Linked DNA regions of Homo sapiens. The protein of the gene in region 1 interacts with the protein of each later gene in a pairwise test. Each region holds a gene or a part of one and is shown on either strand. Other genes may lie near its edges. The genes, in order: PSMF1, TRIM73 and RBFOX1.

The links.
Region 2: the proteins of PSMF1 (region 1) and TRIM73 interact in a two-hybrid assay, tested with the Homo sapiens proteins (one large-scale study listed by BioGRID).
Region 3: the proteins of PSMF1 (region 1) and RBFOX1 interact in a two-hybrid assay, tested with the Homo sapiens proteins (one large-scale study listed by BioGRID and IntAct).

Annotation. Positions count from the first base shown.
Region 1 is NC_000020.11:1,128,544-1,132,193, reverse strand, and holds part of PSMF1 (proteasome inhibitor PI31 subunit), read right to left. Parts: intron 1-3,650. UniProt on the Homo sapiens protein: Plays an important role in control of proteasome function. Inhibits the hydrolysis of protein and peptide substrates by the 20S proteasome. Also inhibits the activation of the proteasome by the proteasome regulatory proteins PA700 and PA28.
Region 2 is NC_000007.14:75,394,156-75,398,432, reverse strand, and holds the start of TRIM73 (tripartite motif-containing protein 73), read right to left. Parts: upstream 2,805-4,277; 5' UTR 2,623-2,804; intron 1-2,622.
Region 3 is NC_000016.10:7,579,441-7,583,090, forward strand, and holds part of RBFOX1 (RNA binding protein fox-1 homolog 1), read left to right. Parts: intron 1-336; coding exon 337-480; intron 481-3,650. UniProt on the Homo sapiens protein: RNA-binding protein that regulates alternative splicing events by binding to 5'-UGCAUGU-3' elements. Regulates alternative splicing of tissue-specific exons and of differentially spliced exons during erythropoiesis.

The DNA.
Region 1 (3,650 bases):
GAGGAATTATTCTACTCAATATTAAGGCCTACAATAATCAATACTGATAGAGTAATATTGACAGAGGAAGAGACATAGAGATCAATGGAAAAGAACAAGGGATCCAGAGATAGATCCACAGATGTACAGACAACTGATTTTTGACAAAGTTTCAAAAGTAATTCAATGAAGGAATAACAAATGATGTTGGGGCCATTGGACATCCATGGGTAAAAAATGAGCTGCTTGCCTGCCCAAGCTGGGTGGGAGGGTAAATTCAAGTCTTCTTTCCTTTTAATCAGATCAGAGGGAGGCCTCTGATCTCCCTAGGCATGTGTAAAATTCAGGCCTGATTAAAAAACCACCAGGTCCTGAAGGAGAAGTTCTCACACAATTTCTAAGCCTTGAAAGAACAACTGCCATTTTGGTTGTGGCAAAAGACAGCCTACCATCTCATCCGACACAGAAAGGGTACAGCAGAATGGAACACAATAGGTTTATATTTCTTAGCAAATCACAGTTTGCTCACTGAGGAGCACAAATTGCTGGAAGAGGCAAGACATGCCACAATGACCTAATAAAGAGGGCTACATGGAGGAAGCTATGGCTGAAAGGCATAGGAGGGAGACAGGGCCTCTGATCAGGAGGCAGAGCCATACCTCAGCTTTCACCGCCCATTTCCACGGAGATGACTCCTGGTGATCACATTTTTTTCCCCTTTGTGTATTTTACTAAGAGCTGGACTAAGCGCTAAGCACTCTATGTGCTGACATCTCATTCCATTCTCAGAAAAACCCTGAGGTAGTACTATTGTGTCCCTCATTTCACAGTAATCAAAAAACAAAACAAAACACAACACATATCCCCTCCCTCACACACAAACCCCTCAAACAAATGTACTTAAAAAACAAATAGAGACAGGATCACAATTCTCTTTCAGTATTGCTGAACAGACGGAATGCTCTAATGAGCATGAATGGCCAGTATAATTCCTAGGTTCTTCCACAGGTTTTGTCAATTTCTCTCCCAGTGGAAGTCCAGAGTGAAGAAGTCAAGAGACCACACTCCAAATGTCCCTCCCTTACCCACTAAGAGGGGCCAGGGTGTCAGGGAGTGTGCAACACCCAGAGGCGCGGCATTCTGCCGGCCAGGCCTGGCTCACTTCCCCCTTTCCTCAGAGGCGCAGCATTCTGCCGGCCAGGCCTGGCTCACTTCCCCTTCCCTCCCTTTGTCTATTGCATGCAGAAGACACCCAAACCCTGCCCTCAAGGAGATCACAGGCAAGGAGGGAAGACCAACCCTAAGAAGGTAAATGTAAAATATCTGATGGATTAAATGCTTAAAAAATGATGTTTTGATCCAGGGCAACACAGCAAAGACCTCATCTCTACAAAAAATAAAAAACTGGCTGGGCATGGTGGCACATGCCTGTAGACCCAATTATTTGGGAGGCTCAGGTGGGAGGGTCACTTGAGCCCAGTAGGTTGAGGCTGCTTGGCCTGTTTATAAGTGAGCTGATTGTGCCACTGTACTCCAGCCTGCCTGGGCAACAGAGGGAAACCTGACTCCAAAAAAAACATTTTACTAAAATGTTTTGAAGCTGTAAGCCTGGGGGCCAGAGGAAGCTTCTCTAAGGAACTGACGTTTAAATCGGTAACCAAAAGATAAACAGGAGTTGGCTACGTGAGGTCAGGGAGAGCACTTTAGACAGAGGGAAGAGGTCTGAAGAGGGCAGAAGAATGACACTGTGGCTGAAGCACAGGGATGCGGGGAAGGCAGTACAAGGTGAGATTGAAGGGGTGAATGCTTTAAGGCCTCATCAAGGATTGTGCTCTTTATCCTAACAGCAATGAGTATTCCCTAAAGACTTTTAACTGTGGTAAAATATGCATAAAATTTACCATCTTAACCATTTTTAAGTGTTCAGTACTGTTAAGTACATTAACACTGTTGTGCAATCACCTACCATCCATCTCCAGATCTCTTTTCATTTTGCAAAACAAACTCTGTACCCATTAATCACTAACTCCCCTTCCTATTCCCCTCTTGCCCCAGTATCTGGCAACCACCATCCACTGTCTGTCTCTACAAATTTGACTAATCTAGGTACTTTTAATAGAATCACACAGAATTTGTCCTTTTGTGAATGGCTTATTTAATTTAGTATAATGTCTTCAAGGTTCATCCATGTTGTAGCACGGGCCAGAATTTCCTTCCTTTTTAAAGCCGAATAATATTCTACTGTATTTACATACCAAATTTTGTTCATCCATTCATCTTATCAATGGACAGCCAAGCTGCTTTCACCTTTTGGCTACTGTGAATAATGCTTCTACGAACATGGGTGTACAAATATCTTTTCAAGACCTACTTTCAATTCTTTTGGGTATATGCCCGGAAGTGGACATGCAGGATTATACGGTAATTTTTTGAAGAACTGTCATATTGTTTTCCATAGTGGCTGCACCATTTTACATTCCCAAGAGTGCACAAGAGTTCCAATTTCTCCACATCCTTGACAACGCTTGTTTATTTTCTGGTTATTCTGATACTACCCATCGTAATGGGTGTGAAGCAGCATCACTGAAGGGTTTTAAGCCAGAGTTGTTAACTATGATCTGATCTATGTCTGAAAGACTGGTCCAACTGCTGCGTGGGAAATACACTGGAGGGTGGCATGCAGGAGGGGAATATGTAAAAGACCTCCTCACACAGAAGCTGCATGGAAGAGGGGAGGAGAAATGAGGAGTGGCCAGAATGTGGAGGCCAGTGGTTTGAAAGTCTGTGAGGACTGGAATAGGTTCAAAGAGGGTATTGCTGATTAGATACTATTAAATGCAACAGGGTTTCTGGGCAGTTCTGAGGTTCGGTTAAGGTTTGATAACTGTGCATTTATAGTGATGCCAAGCTCACTCTAAAACTCTGAGGGTGGCTAGGTGCGGTAGCTCACACCTGTAATCCCATCACTTGAGGTCAGGAGTTCGACACCAGCCTGGCCAACAGCAAAACCCTGTCTCTATTAAAAACGCAAAAATTGGCTGGGTGCAGTGGCTCACGCCTGTAATCCCAGCACTTTGGGAGGCCAAGGCAGGTGGATCACGAGGTCAGGAGATCGAGACCATCCTGGCTAACATGGTGAAACCCCATCTCTACTAAAATACAAAAAAAAAAAATTGCCAGGCGTGGTGGTGGGCACCTGTAGTCCCAGCTACTCGGGAGGCTGAGGCAGGAGAATGGCGTGAACCCGGGAGGTAGAGCTTGCAGTGAGCCGAGATCGCGCCACTGCACTCCAGCCTGGGTGACAGAGCAAGACTCCGTCTCAAAAAACAAAACAAAAAAACGCAAAAATTAGCTGGGTGTGGTGGTGCACACCTGTAATCCCAGTTACTCGGGAAGCTGAGGCAGAAGAATTGCTTGAACAGTCACACTGTACTCCAGCCTGGGTGACAGAACTAGACTCCACCTCAAAAAAATAAAATAAAATAAAAAATAAAACCCTGAGGAGGTCAATGAAGATGGGGGGAAAATCCCTATAATGGAATAAAGCAGACATAAATCAGCTTAACTATATATAAAACAGATAATTTCATTATACTGATTTTAAAAACAAGCACTAATCTAAGTACCTTTGGAACACACTACTCTGCCTACATCTTTTGTGGAACATAGTT
Region 2 (4,277 bases), on another chromosome or scaffold:
CCAGTGAGACCCAGAACTCTACACTTATAGGTGACACTCCCAGGTAATTCTAGAGAGCCTGGAACCTACAAGGCCTCTACCCTGATCTCCCACCTGCTCCCCTATGAAAGCTTGTCAGTGAGACAGAAGAAGCACCAGAAGCCCCCAGCGAGAGCCCGACATTGGAATACCTAGCTTCTCAGGATCCACTGGGCCTCCCACTATGGCCTCAAGCCAGCATCACTGGCTTTTCTTCTTCCCAGCAGGGAACAGCAGGCACAGAGTCAGAAGTGGGAAGTGCAGCTGGACGCCTGCACCACTGCCTGGTCTCTGCCCCTTCTCTCCTCCCCTTCCCCAGCAACACCCCTGTGTCCCCAAGGTCACCAGAATCAGGTGGAAACTGGGTTACATCACAGGACTGGGGAGGCAGCCTTTGTTGGGCCTGCTCTGATAACATTCAAGTGCTGGCCTTGGCCACTGTGGAGGAGGGGCAGAAACAGAGGGACTGGGTACACCGTCCACACCTCATGACCCCAACAGGAGCAGATAGGTGCTGGGAAACAGTTCTTTCTGAATCTCAATCTCTTGCTCTTATATCCTTTTTTGGGGGGGGTGGGGGGCTGGGGGGCAGGGGAAGACAGTGTCTTGCTCTGTTGCCCAGGCTGGAGTGCAGTGGCGTGGTCACAGCTCACTGCAGCCTCCAACTCCTAGGCTCAAGCCATCCTCCTACCTTAGCTGCCTGAGTAGCTGGGACTACAGGCACATGCCACCATGCCAAGCTAATTTTTAAAATTTTTTTTGTAGATACCGGGTCTTGCTTTGTTGCCCAGGCTGGTCTTCAACTTCTGGGCTCAAGCAATCCTCCCACCTTGGCCTCCCAAAGTGCTGGGATTACAGGCATGAGCCTTATTGCACGCAGTCTTCCTTCTCTCTCTCTTTTTTTCTAATACAAACTGGCAGATGATGGTTCGATCTCTCGAATTTTTTTTTTTATTTTATTGTTTTATTTACTTTAGTAGAGACAGGGGTCTCACTTTGTTGCCTGGGCTGGTTTTGAACTCCTGGCCTCAAGCAATCCTCCTACCTCAGCCTCCCAAAGTGCTGGGATTACAGGTGTGAGCCGCCGAACCTGGCCTCTTTTTTTTTTTTTTTTTAAAGATTTGAAGGTATCTTTATTTACTTATTTAGATTTTTTAAATCGAGGTATAACATATACAAGTGTGCAAATCTTAACCACACAGCTTGATAAACACTTGATGTATATACGTGCACTCTCAAGAGCAAGATGTACAGTGTTTCCAGAAAGCTCCCTCCTGCCTCCTTCCAGTCATAACTCCTAACAAGGACAGCCACTGTCCTTATTACCATGTTGTCATGTGGCCTGTTTTTGAATGTCACATAAACAGCATCATATAGAATGTACCCTTTTGTGTCTGGTTTCTTTCACTCAATAATATTAAATTGTGAGTTTTTTTTTAATGTGAAGTCTTTCAACGTTTAGAAATTCAATGACACTCTGTTATACAGGTTTTGTTTGTTTGTTTGTTTATTGAGACAGAGTTTTGCTCTTGTTGCCCAGGCTGGAGTGCAGTGGTGCAATCAGGCTCACTGCCACCTCCACCTCCCGGATTCAAGTGATTCTCCTGCCTCAGCCTCCCAAGTAGCTGAGGTTACAGGCGCCTGCCACCACACCGGCTAATTTTTTGTATTTTTAGTAGAGAGGCGGTTTCATCATGTGGGCCAGGCTGGTCTCAAACTCCTGACCTCGAGTGATCTACCCACTCTGGTCTCCCAAAGTGCTGGGATTACAGGTGTGAGCCACCGCGCCCAGCCTGTTACACAGTTAATGAATATTATGGTCATAATATACTGCTGTGGTTTGAATGTATCCTCCTAATTTCATGTGTTGGAAACGTAACCCCCAATGGGGCAGTATTGAAAGTTGGCTGTAGCCTACGCCTATAATCCCAGCACTTTGGGAGGTCAAGACTGGAGGATCGCTTGAAGCCAGGAGTTCAAGACCAGCCTAGGCAACAAAGCTACAAACCATCTTACCAGCAAATTAAAAACTAAAAAATAAATTAGCTGGGCCTGGTGGTGCACGTCTGTAATCCCAGCTACTTGGGAGGCCGAGGCAGGAGGATCTCTTGAGCCCAGGAGGTGGCGGCTGCAGTGAGCTGAGATCCATCACTGAACTCCAGCCTGGGCTCAGAGCGAGCCTCTGTCAATCAATCAATCAATCAATCAATCAGTGTCTTGTCTGGGCCTAAATTCTCTAGAATACAATGGAAGAGGGAAAGTGAAAGAAGGTGGAAGTAACCCACAGCTGGGAGCCCTGAACCCTGCTGGTGGCAGGTGGCTCTCGTGTCCTCACCAGGTTGCCCTGCAATCACATGCTGCATCCTTTTTCCTGAACCTGCCCCACGTGCCCCACCACGCAGCCACTCCGAGGGCTCCTTCAAGGGCGGCAGCCCTGTCACTCACGTGTTCCAAAAGTGCTTCCCCTGTGCCCTGACGGCCTCGCCATGTGTCCCATCACGCCCCACGCGCTCCCACTGTGCGCCCCACCTCGCACCCGTGCCCCATCATGCTCTGCGTGCTCGTTAGGTGCCCCATCATTTCCCGCTCGCTCTCATTACGTACCCAGCCTCCGGCCCCTGTAAGTGCCCCATCGTGCTCTCTGTCGCTCCAGTTAGATGCCCCATCCTGCCCCGCGAGCTCCAATTACGTGCCCCACCTAACCCCCCATGTCCGTGCCCCATCATGCCCCGCACGCTCTGGTTACATGCCCCGCCTGGCGCTCCCGCACATGCCCCATCATGCTCAGCGCGCTCCCATTACGTGCCGCCACCTCGCGCCCCTGCAAGTGCCCAATGTGCCCTGTGTGGTCCCGTTACGTGTCCCATCATGTTTTGTGCGCTCCGATTACGGGCCACACCTGGCAACTCACCGTGCGACCTCTGTAGTTCCAGAGCTCGCGAGGGCCAGGGCCGTTGGCGGCGGTTGGAACGAAACGATGAGTGCCTCCTCGTGGCCCCAGAATGTAATGCCGCCGTCGGTAGGGGTCTGCCGGGCATAAAGGGGCCTTCGGAACCCCACCAGAGTCACAGCCAGGAAGGGCAGCGGGGCGCACCAGGCCGAAGGCTCACGCCACAGGGAGGGCAGCTAGGACATGGGGGGAAGCGCGTTAAACCAGGGAGTCCTGGAAGGGGACGACGCCCCCGGCCAGGTGAGGGCCCAGACGTTTCGGGGGCGTAGACGCTGAGGGGTGGCCGGGTGGGTCTGCGGCTCTGAGGCCTGGCTTTCATTCTCCATCAGTCCCTGTACGAGCGGTTAAGTCAGAGGATGCTGGACATCTCGGGGGACCGGGGCGTGCTGAAGGACGTCATCCGAGAAGGAGCTGGAGACCTAGTGGCGCCTGATGCTTCGGTGCTAGGTACGCCCTGGGGCGGTTTGTCCGCAGGATCCATGTCATCGCACTCTGTTGGGAAGAGAGAGGCCTCATTTTCAAAAAGCATTTAATGGGGTTGGAAATGCTTTGTTTGAAGTGGATTTTTGTTTTTGAAACGGGGTCTCGCTCAGTTCCCCAGGCTGGAGTGCAGTGGTGCGAACATAGCTCACTGCAGCCTCTGCTTCCTGGGCTCAAGTGATTCTCCAGCCTCAGCCTCCCAAATAAGAGATTTACAGGCGCAATCCACCATGCCCGGCTAATTTTTAATATTTTTGTAGAGATGGGGCACTTTCTATGTTGCCCAGGCTGGTCTCAGACTCCTGGTCCCAAGTGATCCTCCCACCTCAGCCTCCCCAGTAGCTGGGATTACAAGCGTGAGCCGCTGCTTCTGCCATGAATTAGTTTTTTTAAGAGGAAAGCTAAGGAACCCTATGTCCCCTTTGCGTGATGCTTCCATGAAGCTCTTGAACCTCTGAGCCGAAGGGTAGGCTCCTAAAATGCAGAGAGATTTATTCCTGTACCTCGTGGTGTCGGGCAGCTTAAGCTCATCTGATCGCATTGTTTCTGTGTGATCATGAGAGACTCGATATTATGGTGGCGTGGGTGTTTTGGGTCCATTTTCCTTACATTCTTTCCTCTATTCTAGTGAAATACTATGGATACCTGGAACACTTGGACAGACCCTTCGATTCTAATTACTTTAGGAAAACTCCTCGGCTAATGAAACTTGGAGAGGGTAAATTCAGAGTAGGAGCTGGAGAAGAAGGGATTGTTTAGGAGCGAGATGAGGCACCATGCCTCAGGCTGGGAAGACTGCTCAGAGCGCAGGTTCTTTGAATTGACTTTG
Region 3 (3,650 bases), on another chromosome or scaffold:
CCTTTGCTTTTTCTAGCCTATAGTGCTTTTCTCTGTCTGCCAACACTCTATCTATGGATTTATTGTCTGTGTTGCCCTCATGAGAATGATGCTCCCTGAGGGCAGGGATTTTTGTCTGCTTTTCCCACTGCCTAATCCCAGATTCATAATGAGCACCCAGTGGACGCTCAGAAAACACTTGCTGAATGAATGCATGCATGCATGCGTCAGCATTTTCTTCCCTTCTCAGATTGCTTAGTTCTGATCTTTTCCTGCCACTCATGGCAAGCAAAAGAGCATCGGAAGAGAGCACTGTGGTCCACTGAGAACCTCTTCGGTTTCTTCTTGTTCTTTTAGCAGACAGATGACGCAGCACCGACGGATGGCCAGCCCCAGACACAACCTTCTGAAAACACGGAAAACAAGTCTCAGCCCAAGCGGCTGCATGTCTCCAATATCCCCTTCAGGTTCCGGGATCCGGACCTCAGACAAATGTTTGGTGTAAGTATCACCTTTCTTCCCAGCAGTGCCCGCTCTGGGGGTTCCAGAGACCTCCCTGTCTCATGTAAGTTTGGGGTATTTACAATACTAAGGTTAGATGTTTGTATGGGGAGAAACAATTTAGAGCCTAGTCTGCAGGTATATTGTGGCTAGAATCTCTTTATGGTTTTAGCATGTATTTCTGTACATATGCTCACCATGTATCTACTTTACCAAGTGGCTTTCTTCTAAGAAGTAACTTGTAGGCCAAATGGAACACAAATTCCTAGATGACCCACTGTTGAAGGAAGCCTATTGATGGTCCTAAATCCAATGGCCCAGGACATCATACTGCAGCAAAAATACACATCGAGTCCTCTTGGTTTTGCTTTCTTTTACAGTTGTCAAATGATCCAGAGGGTGACTCTTAGTGTATCCCTGCATTGCCTAGTCTTTCCCAGGCACTGTGCATTTAGATTTCAGATGCATCAGCAGAGAACAACTACTTCTGCATAAAGCTGATTTTAGCAAACAAAACAAAACCACCACCACCGACACCAAATGAGCTACCAGTTTCTAAGTCCATGTTGATTCCTGAAGTCTACGTTCTTCTGAAATCAGTGAAAAGGATTCAGAGGTACTTACTGTGGTGCTATATGCCATGAAGTGTAGCCTTGCCCAGGCACCATGGTGAAACACAGAGCAGGCCACAAGTCACCACTGACCCAGGAGAAAATAATAGCATTGCTTTTTTTATAGGTCATCTTGCCCCTGATTATTTTTTTCTCGAAGATATCTTCACTATCCACTTTGGGAAGACATGAGTTTGCCATTTCTTTGACCAGTGTTCCACCAAAGGACAAAGCTGTGACAGGGCTTGGATATCATTCATGTTTGCAGATGTAGCCAATTTGCCCATGACATCCCAGCAATGATAGCAGGTGCCTCTGGATTCAATGAAAAGAACTACATCCTTAACATTTGACTTAGAGCAATGGTGGGCTTCTCAGAGACTCTTCCTCTAAGAGTTAATAAATGGATGCAAATATCACAAAAGGAACAAGAAGATGCCCAACTTGAATGCCTCATTCCTAGCCAAGTTGGTGGTGTCTCCATATAAAATGGGAGGCTCTTGTTCACTACTCAAAGGCACTGTGTGTTGGGGATTAGCTTGCACCTTTTACTTCTTATACACACGTGATGCTTATCAAGTATGCATCTGACACAAAAGCAGAGCGAGCATCCTAATATTGAAGATACCCAGCTTTGAATGCTGACATTTCAGAGGAAAAGGTCAGCTCTTGCACTTTTATCTCTCTCATTTGGTAATAACCTTGAGTTGAGCCTTCCAACTCCTGCAGAACAGAGATACCCTCGGGCACTTTCAGGTCAAAGATGACTTTGAAAAGTGCAGAGCATTCAAAGTGAGAGTCGAGGTTAAGTGTGTGTGAGGCAGTAAGACCAGGTGTGAATGATGGGCGGTAAGAGGAGTTATATTCTCTTTGCCGTGTCAGGTTAGGAAGACATCTTGCTATGCAGTCTATTTTTTTCTCATCAAGTGTCACTGTGATGTTGGCTTTCAATGTGATCCCCTTAATGACCGTCCTGACACTCTTTCATGGTGTCACTCAGTTATCGTGAAAGTTACTGCAGGCTACAATGCTAAGTCATAGAGGTATTCAAAATATTCACAGGAATCAGAGAAGGGATCCTGAGTCTCTCTAGTCTTACAGAGGTAGGGTAGACGGCAAGGAGCAAGATCTTGCCAAAAAATTGTACTACCGGTCATCAGACCTTGATCCAAATCTACTAGTTTCAGGGCTCTTGTTTTTAAAAAGACAAGTTCTCACTCTGCTACCCAGGCTAGAGTGCAGTGGTGTGATCACGGCTCACTGCAAATTCTTGGGCTCAAGGGATCCTCCCACCTCAGCCTCCCAAGTAGCTGGGACTACAGGCACAAGCCACCATGCTTGGCTAATTTTTAAGTATTTTTTTTTAATAGAGATGGGGTCTCAATTTGTTGTCCAGGCTGCTCACAAATTCCTGGCCTCAAGCAACCCTCCCGCCTTGGCCTCCCAATGTGCTGGGATTACAGCATAAGATGTGAGCTATTGCACCCATCCAGCACCCCCCCCCCCCCTTTTTTTTGTGACAAAGTCTTAGTCTGTCACCCAGACTGCAGTGAAGTGGCATGATCTCGGCTCATTGCAACCTTTCTCCTGGGTTCAAGCGATTCTTGTGCCTCAGCTTCCTGACTAGCTGGGACTACATGCATTCACCACTTCACTTTAAAGTCAAGATTTTCAAGCAACTGACAAGATGTCAATTTGGCAAGATGATAGATACACTTAATACCTGTCAATTAAGAGAACACACCATGCATTTAGTGCACAAACTCAACCTTGTTCATCACAAATAGCATCTGTGTCCCTTTTTTTAAAAGTATGCAAGATTTATTTGTTTCTGTAAATTTTGTCTATAAAAGTGCCAGGAACATACAGATTCATAGACCCCCTTGCAATGACTTTCAAGCCTCCTTAGTTTACAACCACTATTCTAAAGAAATGCAGTTTTATGCACTAAAAATCTGTTCTTTCCTGCCAAACACCGGTGGTCATGGAGCCGTTCTTGTTATAGGATACATTTAGTGGCAGGAATCACATTGTGAAGCATCTGTAAACATTCTCATTGGCTCCCTGCACTGGAGCTTAGGGAATTTAGGAGGGTTTCCTCTTTTGGGTCATAGTTACTGCAAGAAACTACAGTTTAACTCCAATTCGGTACTTCTCACGTTATTTGGACATGAGACATCTTCTTTCCTTTTGGTGCTCTATCCTGTCTTTGTCTTCCCACTTTGACAGGGGTTTACAGTGAGGACAATTACAGAGAAAAACAGTCACAAAGATCTTTGTGCTTTTCCCCCCCTTTGTCTCTTGTTAAATATAGGCATGGGATTTCAAAGTCAAAAGCAAAACAAGACAAAAAAGCAACCTCCTTCTTCAAACTGCCTAAAACTTGGCAGTGATCATTACAACGTCTGTAACCACTAATAATTCGACCATACCATCTGCAACCGTTACATGCCTAATGGTTACTGCAGATGACTCATTTTATTTCTAATTTGTATCTTCAGCACATCATGAAGATTGGAATCCTGATTACCTTTTCCACCTTGTGCTTCATATTCTTTA